2 separate regions of the Homo sapiens genome follow, and region 2 is linked to region 1. The links come from fine-mapping of genetic effects on gene expression. A gene starts in region 1. The other region holds a variant in brackets. All regions are shown on one strand. Distances are between the middles of the regions.

Region 1 (8,000 bases):
CCTCCGAGTCCAGGTGGCATCACCTCCAGCTGCTGGAAATGCCCTGCCTCTTGCCACTCTGTCACAGCACCCGCCCTGGCCTCTGAAGGGAGCCTCCTCGATCATCTTCAATCCCTTCCTGATTGATCCCAACGTGGGTGCCCTGAAGAGGGGCCACCAAGACGGCTGCCAAGACCATGCTTGGAGAGCCCTGTTTGCTCCTCCTCCCAGCTGGCACCCAGGCATCTGTTCCACCAGGAGGGAGGCAGCTGCTCCCACAGGGCACCAGGCAGATGCTGGCAGCACCCGGGAAACCCAAGGAAGAGAGCCCCGAGGTTTTGCCCCAGCACTGGGCCAGCACAGATGCCAGGACAGTGTCTTGGCCCCGGTGTAGGCTGAGCATTTCACTTGACTAAAGGGAACCTTTGCCATTTGGCAACTTCTCCATGCTGGGCTTTGGCACCTGGAGGGCAAGGCTTCTGTGGCGAGCGAGGGTGCTGCTTCTAGGAGGTGGTTACGAGCCCCAGGTTGTACCCTGTGGAGCCTCAGGCCAAAGGCCCAGATGACCACGAGTGCACATCTCTTGACCAGAAGTCTTTCATCAAGCAGCAGCGAGGGGGTCTGCAGAGAGGAAGGTGCTCTTCTGAGGATCATCTTTGGGAAAGGGCGCTGGCCTGGGCATGCAAGGAGCTTCGGGGGGTGAGTGTGTGTCCCAGACTGCTTGGGCCACTGTCTTCCTGCAGCCTGCAGCACCGGTCTCTGAAGCAGGAGGATCTACAGGTAGACCTAGGGGGATGTGGGGGCATGTTTGTGGACACCCCATTACATCTTGGTAGATTCCATGTAGTCACAGTGGCTGCGGTTGTCCTCGGGGCCCGGCAGGGGCTGTCGAGGGACGGTGGGCCGGCCATGGCGGAAGCTGTGCAGGGAGAGGCGCAAGGAGCCCAGGCGCTTCCAGAGCCGGAGCTGGGGCTCACTGGGGCTCCCAGGGTGGTGGGGCATGCACTCGTGAGCCCTGCGGCGGCTCGGGTCCAGCGCGGCCGGCTTGCAGAGCGTCATGAACAGCAGACAGGTGGCCAGCAGGAGGAAGATGCAGGCCAGGGCGATGAGCATGGGGAGGGGGTCAGTTGCCTCTGCAAGGGTCCCGGGAGTGACGGGAGCTGAGAGAAAGGCGAGGGGGCTGATGGCTGGGGAGCTGGCGAGGCTGGGGCCCTCTGTGCTCATGGCTCCTGCAACAGCAACAAGACAGAAGCTCAAAGGCAGATCAGCTGGACCCAGGGCAGCGGGTATAGGGAAGACTTACCTAGGGAATGTGGATGGGGGCAAGGCACTGTTAAACTGGACAGCATCATGGCCACATCACAGGTTAAGACAGCAAGGTCCAGAGACATCACAAGTCTAAGTGTACACACAGCTGAGCAGTGATGGAGCTGGGCCCAAGCTCAGGCCCTCTTCCTGTTCCACCCTGTGCCCATCTGCCATGCAGACAAGAGGGCGGTGGCCTGTCCGCATTTTCAAATCAATCCTCATGAATCATCACAGGGTCTTAGGCCTGGAAACTTAAGACCAACTCTGTCAATAACTTGCTCTGTGGCCAGGAACGAGTTATGGATGGTAAGAGGCCGCAGCTGCCAGGGTCCCTAGCAGTAATCTAATACCAAAGCTGCAAACTGGGGGCCCACGGGTGTGTTTAGTTGGGTCCTTGCCATGTTTTTATCAATGTAATTATGAATATTTTCAAAATAATAACAGATTTCACAAAAATATATGGGTGCCTGAATTCTCTTGAAATGTCAGAATTTCACCACTGGCATTGGCCCATGTTCCTGCCTCATCCCTGTGTCTGGGGCTGAGCAGCCGCTGCCCCCTGTAGACAGGGCACTGACCTCCAGCTCCCCACCCTCCCCCACAGGCCCACCACACACCTTATTTCACCTGCCTGGCCCCGTGGGGATTCCTGTGACTGCTTCCCCATGCAGTCCAACTTGCTCCCACGACAGGTGGGAAACTGAGGTCCGAAGAGGGGATTTGGCATTAGGGAGCCAGTGAAGGTTTTAGAGGTGGGGAGTGACAAGCCAGAGCTCACTCCTTGGGAAGGCTTGGCTGGCTGCATTGTGGGTCACAGTAGGGTGGGGTGGGGCAGCTTGGTGGTGGGAAGGCCAAGGCCACATTGTGAGCCAATGGCCAAGTGAAGGTCAGAAGCAGGTCTCCTGACTCCTGGCCCCATGGCCTTGCCACCCCTCTGGCCCCCAGCCCTTTCGGAGCTCAGTGAGCTGCTCTGGGAACAGGTGGGAAATAAACCCACAAGGAGTTGACAAGGGGGCTGGAAACCCCCCAGGGACATCATACACCTGACAGGGCATTTCCTTTCCCACTGAAGATCATCCCATTAGACGCAGTGCAGCAGACGGTCCTTGTCGATGGAAAACCAGGCTGAGCTTTTGGCTCAATATGTCTGGGGTTGTAATAAAAATGCTCACAGATCCTGGCCAGCAGATAACACATGACCAGAGGGTACAGATGAGCAGGGCCACCTGGAGAGCACTGGCTGGGCCCTCTCAAGGAAGTGGAGGGGCCTCAGCCCAGAATGGTGCTGTCAGTGCCGGAGTGCAGGCCCAGTGTGGTCAGCTCTGTCAGTTTCCCAAGAGAAGCCAGAAATCTGGATTTTTTTAAAGGCAAACATTCTAGACGTTTAAATGTTGGCAGCTAATTCAAATTTGTTGAAGGCAAGAAAGAAGAGAGGTGGGGTGGGGGAGAACACAGCAAAAGCCAAATAAACTTGATTTCAAAATAATGTGAAATGAATTTTCAAATATTTGAAACACTACACAGGCCAAACCAAACACATAAGCAGAGGACGTCCAGCTTGCAGGTCAGCATGTGTGATATTTAAATTCTACTGACGTGGACAAGCAATCCCAGGGGGTCTGATAAAAAGTCATGATTTCCCTTTAACCTTGGGGTCTTTCCTTTTCATGAGGGTGGGGGATAGCAGATTTTCCTCCTTCCCAGCTTGCAGCTTAGATAACAGTTGAGTTTCTAGCACGGAAGCTCAGGAGGAGGAAAGATGTCAGGTCACGCTCAGAGAAACCCTGCCACAGGTAGTGGGGAGGGGAGTGGGCCACCTAGTTCCCCACCCGAGGGACTCCTGTCCCTACCCCAGGCACTCACCAGCAGCCGCAGGACCTCACTCCTGGCTCCCTGCGCCCAGCCAACTGAGGGCATGCAGAGCACCCCACCTCCCACCCATTCCCCACCACCACCCCTCCCAGCACTTCCAGGCAGAAAACGACCCCTCCCAGTGCCTGGCTGGAAAGTGTGATGCCCGTCTAGCTGCCCAGGGCCTCCGCCTTTGCGGCATCAGGCCTAGAGAGCACTCTGGCTGGGCAGCTGTGCATGGGTTGGCCTTTCCTTGAGTCTGAGCAGGGAGGAGGGATGGGGTGTGCCCACCGCTCATTCCCGTGGGGAGAAAATCAGCCATCCCTCTCTCCTACCCTGGACAATGCTTGGCCAGGAGTAAGAAAAGGGCAGTCTGAAATGGGAGATGCCTCAATCCTACTAGTTCTAATGTTATTTCAAGGCCTTCAAAGGAATCTGGAGACCCTACTGGGCTAGCAAATAGGATCCAGGCTTCAGGCCTTGGGACCTGCTTTAATTTAAAAAATAAGTGAGGCCAGGCGTGTTGGCTCTCACCTGTAATCCCAGCACTTTGGGAGGCCAAGGCAGGAGGATCACTTGAGCCCAGGAGTTTGAGAACAGCCTGGGCAACATAGTGAGTCTTCATTTCTGAAAGAAAAAAAAAAAAGGTTTTTTAATTAGCCAGGTGTGGTAGTATGTGCCTGTGGCCCCAGCTACTCAGGAGGCTGAGGCAGAAGGATCATTTGAGCCCAAAAGTTTGAGGCTACAGCGAGCTAGAATCATGCCACTGCGCTACAGCCTGAGCGACAGAGCAACACTCTGTCTCAAAAAAATAAAAAATAAAAAAAAAATAAGTGGAGTTGTAATTAGCATCTGAGTAGTTCCTGTGGCAACGAGAGATTCCTAAGTGCTTGAAAACAACACAACACCCTTCCTGGAGCACGAGGCAAGTCCAGCTGCCAGGCCCCTTGACACCCGGCTACTGACCAACCAGCAAAGGCCAGCTAGTACTGGGAGAGGATGCCTTGCCCGGACCAAGGCCAGGAATCATCTGGAGGGCAGTTGAAGCCACTCCCTTCCCACTGGGGCCAGGGTGCACCAGCGGGCCCTGCTCTGGACATATCTCTGCAAGCTCAGTCTAGGACCCTCCTCTTCCCTTGGAGTTCCACAGAGCAGGACCTGCTGTGGGCAGAGAAGACTGCTGTGTGGCCTCGGGCTAGTCCCTACCCCTTACTGGGCCTTGTTTCCCCTCTCTACAGAACCAGAGGACTGCCTAGGTCTGAGCATACCCTCACATTCTCCCAGGAGTCCCCAGCAAGGGTCTCCACCACACTTCCCTCTCCAAGCCTTCTCCTGCAGTCCCCCAAGCACTGACCTCAGAGCCAGACCCCAGCCGTCCGGAGCTCCGTGGAGAGGTCTTCTCAGCTGTGGAAGGGAGGCCCAAGGAGCCCTGGGCAGTGCCTGTGACCCCAGCCCTGCCAGGCTCTGCTGTGCCCTGCAGCCCTCGGTCAGCCTGGCCAGCAGAGTGGCCTCCCCGTCACTCCCCAGCTGGACCTGGCTTTGTCTAGAAGAGTTTGGGCCCTGCCTTGGGGGAGGGGATAGCTAAGGGAGTAGGGATGGCAACTGGGTTGGGAAGAGGGAGAGGGGAGCTGTCCAGAGACTCTGGGATGCCCCCTGGCCTTCCCACCGCCTCTCTCCAGCCTGTCTCCTTGGAGCCCTCTCAGGGGTGGAAGACTCTGGGGAGACGCAGGGGGAGGGTTTTACTGCCTCTGCGGCCCCATGGCGCTCACCTTCCCCTGTCGGAAGTTTGAATGGTATGGTCGGCGGCAGCCAGAGGTTCGCTATTCAGTGCCTGCCAGCCACCAGGTTACCCTGGAGAGGGGCTACAAGCCATGGCAGGAGGGGAGCAGGGAGAGTGCTGGTCCCTGGCAGCCCCTGAGGCCCCTCCTGCAGCGTCCCTGGGCCCCATTCCTTCCAGGCTTTTCCCTCAGCTTGTAGAAAAGCACCTTCCCTTTGAAGGTGTCTGGCTACAGAAGCGAGGGGTGAGGGGCATCTTCAAAGGTCAGGGGGATCCCAGGGCAGAAAGCATAGGACTGACGGACCTCCAAGGCCATGCTCCCCACAGTGCGGGTGGGCCACGGGAGACCTCCACTGGAGGCTCTTTCCAAAACACACACACACACACACACACACACACACTTCCCTCCCCCAGCCTTCTTTCTCCCCAGAAGCCAGAGCTTCCCTGACAACCAGCTGCCTGCTTAGGAGCCCAAGTCTTTGGCAGCTTCCCCACCAGGGACCTCCAAGCTCCCAGAAATGCAACTCAAGACAGGAGTCATGGCCCTGTCCAAGACCTGAGCCTCAGACCCATTCCCTTTTTTGGAGCCCCAGTTTCTGGTTTTTAGCTGTTCCCTCCTGCCCTTGCCCATAAAAAGAGGCACTGTCTGCCAACCCCAAGATGGACAAGAGATTTCCTATGGACTGTTAAAGCTGGAGAGGTCCTCAGGGGTCATCTAACTCCTCTTCTGAGAGAAAAGAGCCCCCGTCTTCTCTCAGATGACCAAACTGAGGCCCAGAGAGGTGTGACCTGCCCAGGGGCACCCAGCAAGTGAGTGGTGGGGGACTTGGTGTTTCCCCTGTGCTGGGTGGGCAGGGGCAGGCAGTAGGCATCCAGGGTAGGCAAAGCATCCGGCCCAAAGGTGTTTTCAATGCCCAGAGTCCCCATTGGGATTCCTGCACCTTCCATCACAGCATTCACTGCCTTCATTTTCCTTAACTTCCTCTCCTGAAACCAACTGAACACTTCATCTGTGGCCCCCATTCCTCCTGAGATGACAGAAGACAAAGCTTCCAGGGTGGTGCAGGCTGCTGGAGCAGGGAGGCATCAAGGAAATCTCACCATGGATAGGCATGCAAGGGCATGCTCTGGGCAACGTGGCTCTCTTCACCATCCTGAGCCCTTCCAGATCTGGACAATTGAAGCACCCTGTTACATCCCTCCACCTGCCAGCTCCTAAGGTTTCTCAGGGAATGGAGAGAGAAAGAACTGCACGGCAAGGGGCAATCCAGCCATCCCCAGCTCTGGCATAAATCCAGAGGGCTCTCTGGAGAAGGTGGCATCACTCATGTTGACCTTCACCACACATCCCCATGCTAGGCACCAGCCAAGACGCTTTGCAAGATGACTTCTGATCTTCCCCTCAACCCTGCAAGGCTGGTCATCATTGTGCCCAGTCTAGAGATGAGAAAACTGAGGCTCAAGGGGGCTAAAGTACTTATCCATAGTGCCATAGAGAGTAAGTGACAAAGCCTAAATTCATGCTTGGGTGTGCCTGACCCAGGGCCCTTGTTCTTTTTGCTCCAGTGTACTCGTCCTCCTCCCCACCATCAACATGCTCATCAGAATCCTTAGACACACTTACCGCAGTGCCCGGATGTGCATCGAGGCCAGCGCCTGCTACAGGCTCCTCGCTCTGCCTTCATACCACCATGTCTATACTCCCTGTCCTGTGGAGGTTCCAGGGCATCAGTGCTGCTGATTGAGGCTGTCATTCCACTCTTCCAACCACAGCCCTCTGCTGTCCCTGCATGAGCCCTTCACTCCAGACTGGGGTCCTAGTTCCTTCCTTAGCCTCCCCAGCTGCCTCTACTTCAGCTAACACTGTTTCCCAGCACAAATGTTCTTCCCAACCTTCTCTGCTAAGCCAGGTTTCCTCCATCCTTCCAAACCCAGCTCCCTCCTTTGGAAACCTTCAGCCAATCCCACCTTCACTGCTTTCTTGATCTTTGCTAGCAGGAACCCATCCCCATCTTCTCTGCAGTTTTGTCCAGTGAGCAACGATAGGAAAGCCTACATTAGGGCTTCGGGTGGCAAGAAAGAAAATCCATTCTATATTATCTTAGGCAGGGCCAGACATGGTGGCTCATGCCTGTAATCCCACCACTTTGGGAAGCCAAGGCGGGAGGATTGCTTGAGCTCAGGAGTTCGAGACCAGCCTGGGCAATATAGCAAGACCCTGTCTCTACAAAAAAAATAATAATAATCTAGGCAGAAGGAGAAGTGTACTGTAGCAATACTGGGATACCCTACAGGATCAAAGGAAAAATCAAACAGGGAGCGAGGCACAGATGGGCTCCTGGAATAACTGGGCCCAAGGATGCAAACCAGGGCTGAATGTTGTATGTGTCCTGCATTCGTGCTTACTGAGTGTCAGCCTAGTTCCTCTCCCTGGAGCTCTGCTCCTAAGTCGTTCACATATTTGACCCTACTGTGTGCCAGGATTGTTGTTCCAGAGACCAGGGATATCGCAGTGCACAAAGCCCTTTCTTCCTGTGGGGATATGGGCAATAAGCAAAGATAGCATGTATCAGAGGGTGACCAGGGGTAGGGAAGGCCAGGACATTGGAGTGGGGGCTATAATTTCATATGCAGTGCTCAGGGAGGGTCTTAGGAGAAGATATTTGAACAAAGACCTGAAGGAGATGAGGGCATGAACATGCAAATATCTGGAGGGAGAGCTTGCCAGGAAACAGCCAGGGCAGAAGCCATGAGGCCAGCACACGCTTGGTGTTCAAGAAACAGCCAGGAGACCAGTGTGCCAGGGCAGTTAAGAGGAGAGAGTGGTGGGAAGTGGGGCCCAGGGATGTGCAAGAGAGGGGCTGTTGATATTCCCACATTTTACTGCTAGAAAGACTGACTCAATCTCTCTGGGCCCAAGGTCAACAATCCCAGAGAAGAATGTGATTGGCTCAGCTTTGATCAGGCACCCAGTCCTGGACCAATCCCCTCTGACCGTCTTGGCAGGGTCAGGAAGAAAATGGCAGCTCCCATGCACACCACAGGGCTGAAGTGAGAGGTGGTGAGACAAGAAGGGGCAGACCCA
Region 2 (8,000 bases), 31 kb after region 1:
CATCATTTGCATCCCTGTTTTGAAAGATGTGGCTCCCTAAGCAGGGGGCCTGAGATTTGGCTGCTAAGACCCTCCCCAGAGCCAAGAGAAATTCTCTGAGTCCCTCCAGCTCTACTTTTCTCCCTGAGACCCTCGTCCCCCCAGGTTCCTGAGAGCTGGACATTCCTGCAAACAGCCTAGGCCACCCCCATCCGGCCTCAGCCCATATCACCCGAACTCGGAACAGCTGTGCTGCAAGGGGTATCTGGGCCAGACCCAGGCCCGCCACACAATGGTGTGCCACTGGCCGGGGGAGTCATTGTGGAGCCTCAGCCCCTGCCTAGCTCCAGGCCATGGGAAGACAGGCCAGGCTTGGGGGAGGGGTTTAAGTGGTTGTCAGGGAGGCCCCTGCAAAGGAAGAGCTGGGCCCAGGGAGGAAGGGCGGAAGGTAACTGGGAGGTCAGGAGTTAGCCCAACCTCAGAGGCACTTGGCAGTGGGGTGGAGAGGGAGGGAGGGCCTAACTGTGGCCTCCCTGCCACGTGAATTGCAGCCAACCGATACTACTATTCCAGATAAGAAGCCCTGGCTTCTCAGGCTGGTGAGGACCTGCAGAAGTCACCTATCCAGGCAGAAGGACAGAAATCTCCCACCGCCCCCTTCTGGTATGCAAGTCCCCAGCAGCGGCCCCGTGACGGTCTATGAGCTGGGGACACTGCTCTTGGCAGTACACCTCATGTCTTTAGAGCAGAGGCCCCTTCTGTTTATTAGACTTGGACCCTGCTATTGTGAACTCTGCTTCCCCTGGCTTGAGATCAGAAGGTCCCAGCCTGGCCCTCACCCTCTGTGGCACCAAGAAGGCTGGCCTTCCCTGACCCAGCACAAGTACATCCAGACCCTTCCCTTGGCCTGGCTTCTTGAGGGATGTTCCACAGCTGCCCAGATGCTCCACATACAACTGGCTAAGTTCCTCCAAGAGACCCTGGGGCTCAGCTGCTGAGGGTTTCTCCCTTCCCCATCCCCTAATGCAAGCAAGAGGGGTGCATGGGCCACTGTGCCTATCAGGAGTCCTCTAGCTCCACAGTTGGCAGGCAGAAAAGGGAGTGGCAGGAGCTGATATGGAAGGAGCCTACCCATCAGCAGCAGCGTCTTCTGGACCCAGAAGAAGGCCCAGGCCAGGGCAGGCAGAGCACAGATAGGAACGTTTCTGGTGTGCAGTACAGTGGAGCCCTGGACCTGTGGGCACAAGTTCATCTCCCAGAGCCCTTGTATGTGCTCTAAGCAAGTCCAAGGTGAAGGCCAAGCCAGGCCCTGGCCCATAATACCAATCCATTCAGTGAGGAGGAAGCAGGAGACCCAGGGTTTAGTCGTAGTTCCACCGTTTACTTGTTTTGACAAGACACAGACCTTTCAGAACCTCTATTGCCCTCTGTGTTAAATGGCAGCAATAAAACCTCCCAGGATTTTCAGGGAAGGGGGTGGATCAAACAAGTTACAACACATGTGAAAGTGTGTTGGAAAGCACCAAGTATTCTAACAGAAAAGGCCAAGAAACAGCATGCATGCTGCCACTTCCCTCTCCCGTGCCCAAGGCAGACATGGCTATCTATCTCGGCACTGTCTCACCAAGCTATATTGATCATTCAGAATCCCTCTCAACACATTCCAGGATAGTTAGGGTGACATAGCCTCCATGGGGTGAAGAGAAGCAGCAATGCAAAGCAGGGAATGCCCAGGGAATGGGCCAGGTGGCCTGTGCCGTCTATGGGCTGGGCCTCATGCTCAGCTGGGCTGTGGCTGGGCTTCAAGAGGCCTTTGTTCCCAGCATCCTGGTTAGCAACCCCAGTTCCTCTTTCGTGCATTGTGGTTCCCTGAGAAAACGTTAACCCAGCCCCCAGCACAGTCAGGCCAGCCCTGGGGAAGGCCTCATTCATGAGGCAGGACCCCAGGGGCCAAGTTGGTGCTCGGTGGTGGCAGGACCCCTGCAGCCCCCTGTCCCACTGCACACTCCCAAGTCCACCCCGCGAGGAGCACCCCCTGAAAAAGGCCATGTATCAGCCCCTCTGCCCTGGGCCACTGCATGTAGTGGGAGCTCTGGTCAGGCAGAAGTCTTTTGAAAAGCAGGTCCTGGGGCTCCTGCACCTCCACCCCAGCGCCCATCGCCACGGACTCCCCCAGGCAGGGCCAGCCTGCCCACCAGCAGTCACCAGTGGCCTCCATGGTGTGTTTTTAGGGAGTGCTGAGCAGTCCCCGCTGTGTCAGCAAAACCCTCCAAATGGTGCTTTCAATTCCATTCCTTCAGCCTCTCCCTGGGAGGGAATAAAGGCAGGAAGTCTCTATTAAACTGTGAATGTCAGGAGATAGGTAAGATGGCCCCTAATTCCTGATTGATCTCCTAACAATGAATTAGTTCTTAAAAGCATGGATTTCCCTCTCAGGGCCTCAGACTGTGCCACGAATCCAGCGCTCCAGGAGCCTCCTGCCCCAGCCCCTAGTGCTCCTCCCGCCCCCTGGAGGCGCCATGTTCTCGCACCCAGCTCTCCCATGCACCCCAGCCCACAGCCACCAGGGCTGGCATCAGAGGCACTACCATCCCGGGCAACTCAGAGGGCGGCTCCAGCAGCCTGCCCCTCCCCAGCAGCAGCAGGGAGGGACGTCCCTAGTGCGTTGTAGGCAGGGCCTGTGGCCATGGATGAAGATGGAACTGGGAGCTCAGAGTAAATTTCGCTGAAAACAGGAAACCACGAAGCCCAGATGCGTTCAGTTGTAAAAGGGTCCAGAGAAGAGAGGGCAGGGCCGCACCAGAGGAAGCTGAGGAGGAAGTGCGGTGGCTGTTCTGCTGCGGGCCGCCTCCCTCTCCACACAGCAGCAGCCAGGCCTGGGGTCTGGCAGCCAAATTCTTAGAAGTTGTCTCTGCCTCAAGGTCAGCAGCTGAGGGCTGGGGCCAGGCCAGCCTCCCCAGAGGGCAGGGCATGCTCTTCCTGAGTTGGGAGAACCGGAATCTGGGCTGTGGGCTTGTCCTTCGACTCCAGGAACAGCAGGTGTCCTGTCCCCACTCCTGCCATGCAGGCCCCCATGAATTGTGAAAAACATACCCTCTTTCCTTCTTTCTTTCTTTTTAAAATTTGTTTTGAGGCAAAGTTTTGCTCCGTCCCCAGGCTGGAGTGTAGTGGCTCGAACACAGCTCACAGCAGCCTTGAACACCTGGGCTTAAGCGGTCCTTCCACCTCAGCCCTGCAAAGTGCTGGGAGGACAGGTGTGTGCCACCATGGCCAGCCAGCACCCTCTTCCTATGGCAGCTGGCATCAAGCATTGTGGTGACCAGAGGGAACAAAAGAAGGGACCCCCCTCTGCCTAGGGACAAGGGAGAAGCCGGGGTTTGGGCATATTCTGGCCACTCGAGGTGTCAGCCCCATCTCCGGGCCTATGTTTACCCTCTCCTCAAAGCCCCTGGCCCAGCCCAGGCAGAGCAGGAGGCCCTCAGTGGACCATTCCTTTGGGCCTAACTGGGGGGCTTAGAAGCAGGGCCATGTGTCCAGGTGGGGTTCCCTGGCTGTAGCCACAGGCCCAGGGCTCACTGCTGCCAGGCAGCCTAGAGGTGCTCCCCTTTTCCATCCCCCCAACCCCCCAAGCAATTGGGCGAACATCTTCCCGCCTAGCCCCAAATCCTGGCTTTCAGCACCCAGGCCCAGCTCAGCAGAGCCAGTGTAGGCTGCTAGGAGACAAATGCCCAGGCTGGACTATGCTCTCCACAGTACCTGGGGCCCCCATCCTGCTAAACGCTACAGGGGGTCTGCCCAGCCCCACCTCACCTGTCCCCATGCTCAGGCACTGCCTTCCCTGTTTTACCCCCAGAGTGTACAGAGATGCCCCCTACTCTCCTCCCCTGCTTTAAAATCCTTCAATCACAATTCCACAGAGGACTCACCTTGCCTATGTGTATAAAAACAAAGCCAGGGCATGCCCACAAGCAGGAGATGGGAACATCACCCGCACCTGGCCGAATGGCTCTGAAGCGAAGACTCCACCAGGCCCAGATTGTATGGAGTGGAAGGTGGGGGTGGGGGAGGAGCAGCAGAGTGCAGATTTAAACTGGCTCTTACAATCCATCTCCAGGGTTTGCACCTGTTTCCCCATGTAGTTTTTAATAGCATCCCGCTTCATACTCAGAAGTGTCCCAGGGTGGACAAGACATTGTGTGGCACCCTTGCAATGGCCCGCGCTGAGCAGTGGGAGTAGGGGATGGGGAGGGCGGGGGGCAGGTGCCCCTCTCCACTCACCTTCCCAGAAGGCCCCACCCACCTCCCTCAGCACCATCTCCAGTGGGTGGGGCAACATCTGTCCTGGCCTCAGATTGCCCAAGACACCATTTGCTCACGGAGGCCACCATGCCCCAATATGTACTTCCCGTTTCGGGACCACCAAGCTCTGGGGACTGGAATGCAGGCAGTGGAAGCCCCAGATTGACTTAACCTGTTGACAGATCTTCAGAGAAACTGCTGGTAGGAGGCAGCTGGG[G/T]AAGGTGGCGATGGCCAGTGGGCAGGCAGGCCTGGCCCCAGAGCCACTGTGGTACAAAGAGGAAGTCTGACAGAAGAGCAGCCTCGGGCAAAACGGGGGAGCCAAGGCGGCCACGGGGGAGAAGTCTCTCCACCGTGCCCTGTGTCTGGTGCCTGGGAGGGTGGCCCAGTGTCCATCTTGTCCCACTGATGCTGCCACATCCCAAGGCTCATGTCTCAGAACGAGAGCTGCTGAAGGGCTGGACGTTCTGAGACTTCTTAAGATGTAAGTCATTTGGCATCTGTAGCTGGTGAATTTCAGGTCTCTAGGGGAGAATCTCAGCACCCCAAAATCCTTGGAACAGGGGCTGAGCCGTCCAGCATCCCCATGTAGCATCCAGAGGGGTTGAGGGGCTGGGCTTCTGGGATGTCACAGTATCTGAGCCCAGAGCAGGAGGGAGGGAACCAGGGCCGAGGCCAAGGAGGCCACTCACAGAGCCAGCCCTGGCTCAAATGCACCTGCCCCAGACCCAGCCACAACAGCCCACTGTCCCCCAGCTGGGCTAGATGACCTCAAAGTTTGGAGAGTCAGGGACAGGGTCTGCAAGAAAAGGAGAAGCAAAGTGAACGGGGCCCCTCTGCCCCTCACCCTCAACCCCACCCCGTGAGGCCGTGGAACTCTTCAGGGAGGTGAATGGGGGCCCCTCTGTCCCTCACCCTCAACCCCACCCCGTGAGGCCGTGGAACTCTTCAGGGAGGTGAATGGGGGCCCCTCTGTCCCTCACCCTCAACCCCACCCCGTGAGGCCGTGGAACTCTTCAGGGAGGTGAATGGGGGCCCCTCTGTCCCTCACCCTCAACCCCACCCCGTGAGGCCGTGGAACTCTTCAGGGAGGGCAGGGAGTGAGGCCGATGCCCTGCAGGCCATGAGGTCATGACCTTACAGGTCATCGTGCTGTGAAGGTCAGGAAACACTTACCCAGGGATGGGAAGAAGACGTCTCCGGGGCCTGGAGGAGACAGGGGGGTGCTGGGCTCCGAAAGCAGATGCCGCCCAGACTCAGAAGGCTGCCGCTGGGCCACATAGGACAGGGGGTGCCTGACTTTGGCCTCGGGTATCCCCTGGGCAGGTGGTGAGGCTTCAAAGCCGGGGTTTTCAATCCCTTGAATGTTGCTGCCACAGAACCAGAATGGAAGGTCATCTGTGCTGTCCGGAGCGTGAACTCTGCCCTCCCTGCCCCCAGTTTTTCTCTCCTCCCTTTCTCTCACCTACATCCCCATCCCCAAGCCTCAGCAGCATCTCCAAGCAAGAAGGCAGGAGCCAGGCCCACAGAGCAAAGGCCATGGGCTGCACCTGCCCACCTGTCCTGAGCTGAGGGCATCAGGGCCCACCAGAACAGACCCCAGCTCCTCCCTGTGGTCTGACCATCAACCCCGGGCACAGCCAGGAAGCCAAAAATCACAGACACTTCTAGAACTTCAGCCTCAGGAATTTGGGGACAAGTTTCTCTTTGGTCAATAGAGTTGATGGCATTAGGATCGAACATCCCCAAAGCCTGTCTTGAGCTGAGGGGAGGGGTTCTCTTCTCTTCCCAGTTGGGAGTGGGATAACTTCTGAAGACCCCTGCAACTCTTAGATTCTAGATGAGTTGCAAGCAGGACTTCCTTCAACCTGTCTTGAAGATCATCCCTTTCAAACACCTAGAGGAGCTTTGTGTTTGGTGTTGCAGGTACCGGGGCAGGAACTTGGGTTCCCTGAACACACCCTCCAGGCCAGGCTGCATGGCAGCTTCCTGCCCAGAGCACACCAATACACAGTCCCCATCCCCTCTGCCCCTAGACCCAGCCCACTGCACCACTCTGGGACCCCTCAGCCTCTGCCCTTGTGGCCTGCAGCGGCCTAACAGCTTTCTCCTTGGAGTTCTCTGCGGGCAGGAGGCACAGCTCAAGGGCTGTGGCTGGGGCTGGGCCCGCTGGCCTCCTTTGCATGTCTCACTGTCTGCCCCAGACAGTGCTTCCTCCCTGTCCCCATCCTGGCCCAGGCTGACCACTGAGACCCGAAGGTGGGTGCATGACACATCTGAGCAGAATCAGAGCTCAGCCTGCTGAGTCGGGGTGGCAGGAGAACAGCCAATCTGCACAGATGTGCAGGCTTCAGCAGCAGATGGCAGAGGCTCTTCTGACCAGCTGCTCTAGGCAGCTAAACAGGGCCCCTACTGCACAGAAGTATCTCTTCCTGGATAGCCGGCCCAGGAAGTTTTCTCAAGAAGGTCTCCATGGGCCTTACCTGTCCATCCGCACCAGCTCCTGGGCACCTAGGGACAGACAGACAGAGAAGCTGGTCATGGAAGGGAAGGCTTCCCCATACAACATCCCTGCCCCTGCTGGCAGATGCCCTGCAGGGAACAGGAGCGAGCCCAGGAGGGCCCTGCACAGCTCCGGACTCCATTTCTTTTCACATGGGTGCTGTCCAGCAAGCGATCTGCGTGTCTGTCCAGCAGATGGGGCCTCCATGAGGGGCCCATTTTGACGACTGATAAATGAAACTCTATCTGCATTTTCCAGGAGTGTAAGAACGCTATCTGCCATCAGGAGACCAAAGGCAGCCAGCGCTTTCTCCTATGGCTTGACTTACACAGTGTCAGACCTTCAGGATTTAAGTATCGAGCAAAGGTCAACTCTTGAATTTGCTAACTGGTGTCTCTTGTTTGAACATTTGCCAGGTTCTGGTCTTTAGCCATGACTTACTGGGTGGGAGTGTTTAAGGTCAGTTCCTAATTAGAGGGCTCCTGGTCCTCTCTGTCCTATCCCCTACATTGCCTAATAGGGTGGCATTCTAGGGGACATCTCTCAGGGAAACCTTACAAGGTGCAAGTCCCCGATCACTTCCCAGCCACTTCACTCACTTTCTGCTTCTCATCCAAGTTGCTGCCGCTTGCCTCAGCCTTGGGACACCCCACCCCCCAAACTGGCCACCAATTAGATGCAGTGACCCCAACTTCCCTCTTTCATGCAGCACCCCATGTCCTCCCACAGATGCTTCTCGTTTTAAGGAGATTTACTGCTGATTACGATGGGGAAACAGATGGTGGGGGAGGGGCACAACAACAGAACAAACACAGGGAAGTTACCCAAAAGTTCCTGAAATCTATTCAAACCATGGCTATTGCTTACAGCCGACTCATGGGTCAGGCTTCGTGCAGGTGCACACGGGTATTCCCTCATCTCATCCTCTGTGCCACCCTTTGGGGTGAGGGTTGTTGGTCCCATTTTAGAGCTGGGGAAACTGAGGCTCAGTCCAAAGCAGGATGGAAATCCACACCTGTTGGCCTCTCCAGCAAACTGCCGTCCTCAAGGCTCCCAGCCCTTTCCTTTTCTTTTTTTCCTGAGAGTGCCTCATTCCTGAGCAGGCTCTCTGGGCCAGCCTTCCACCAGGGAGGGCACAGCAACACCTGCTCCCCCTGCCCTGCTGCCCAGCGTTGCTCTTCTGTTCCAAGCCCTTTACCTGCCCCCACCCACCCCCAGCCAT

The links.
Region 2: its variant is fine-mapped to the expression of C10orf105 in whole blood (INTERVAL, PIP above 0.99).

The regions. Positions count from the first base shown.
Region 1 is chr10:71,715,135-71,723,134 of GRCh38, forward strand. C10orf105 (chromosome 10 open reading frame 105) reads right to left here and starts at 4,644. Exons shown (of 2, transcript NM_001164375.3): 1 at 4,493-4,644; 2 at 1-1,208. The coding sequence starts at 1,203. The coding sequence ends at 802. All of the region lies in intron 28 of CDH23 (cadherin related 23), which reads left to right. RefSeq lists a silencer at 1,919-2,116 and an enhancer at 4,033-4,781.
Region 2 is chr10:71,746,217-71,754,216 of GRCh38, forward strand. All of the region lies in intron 38 of CDH23 (cadherin related 23), which reads left to right. It overlaps VSIR (V-set immunoregulatory receptor), which reads right to left. Exons shown (of 7, transcript NM_022153.2): 5 at 6,759-6,786; 6 at 5,452-5,645; 7 at 1,340-5,074. The coding sequence ends at 5,037. Among named protein-coding and RNA genes, the nearest start is that of VSIR, 23 kb to the right of the region's middle. RefSeq lists enhancers at 1,782-1,991, 2,377-2,426, 2,627-2,756. The variant G/T (reference allele first, on the strand shown) is at 4,496.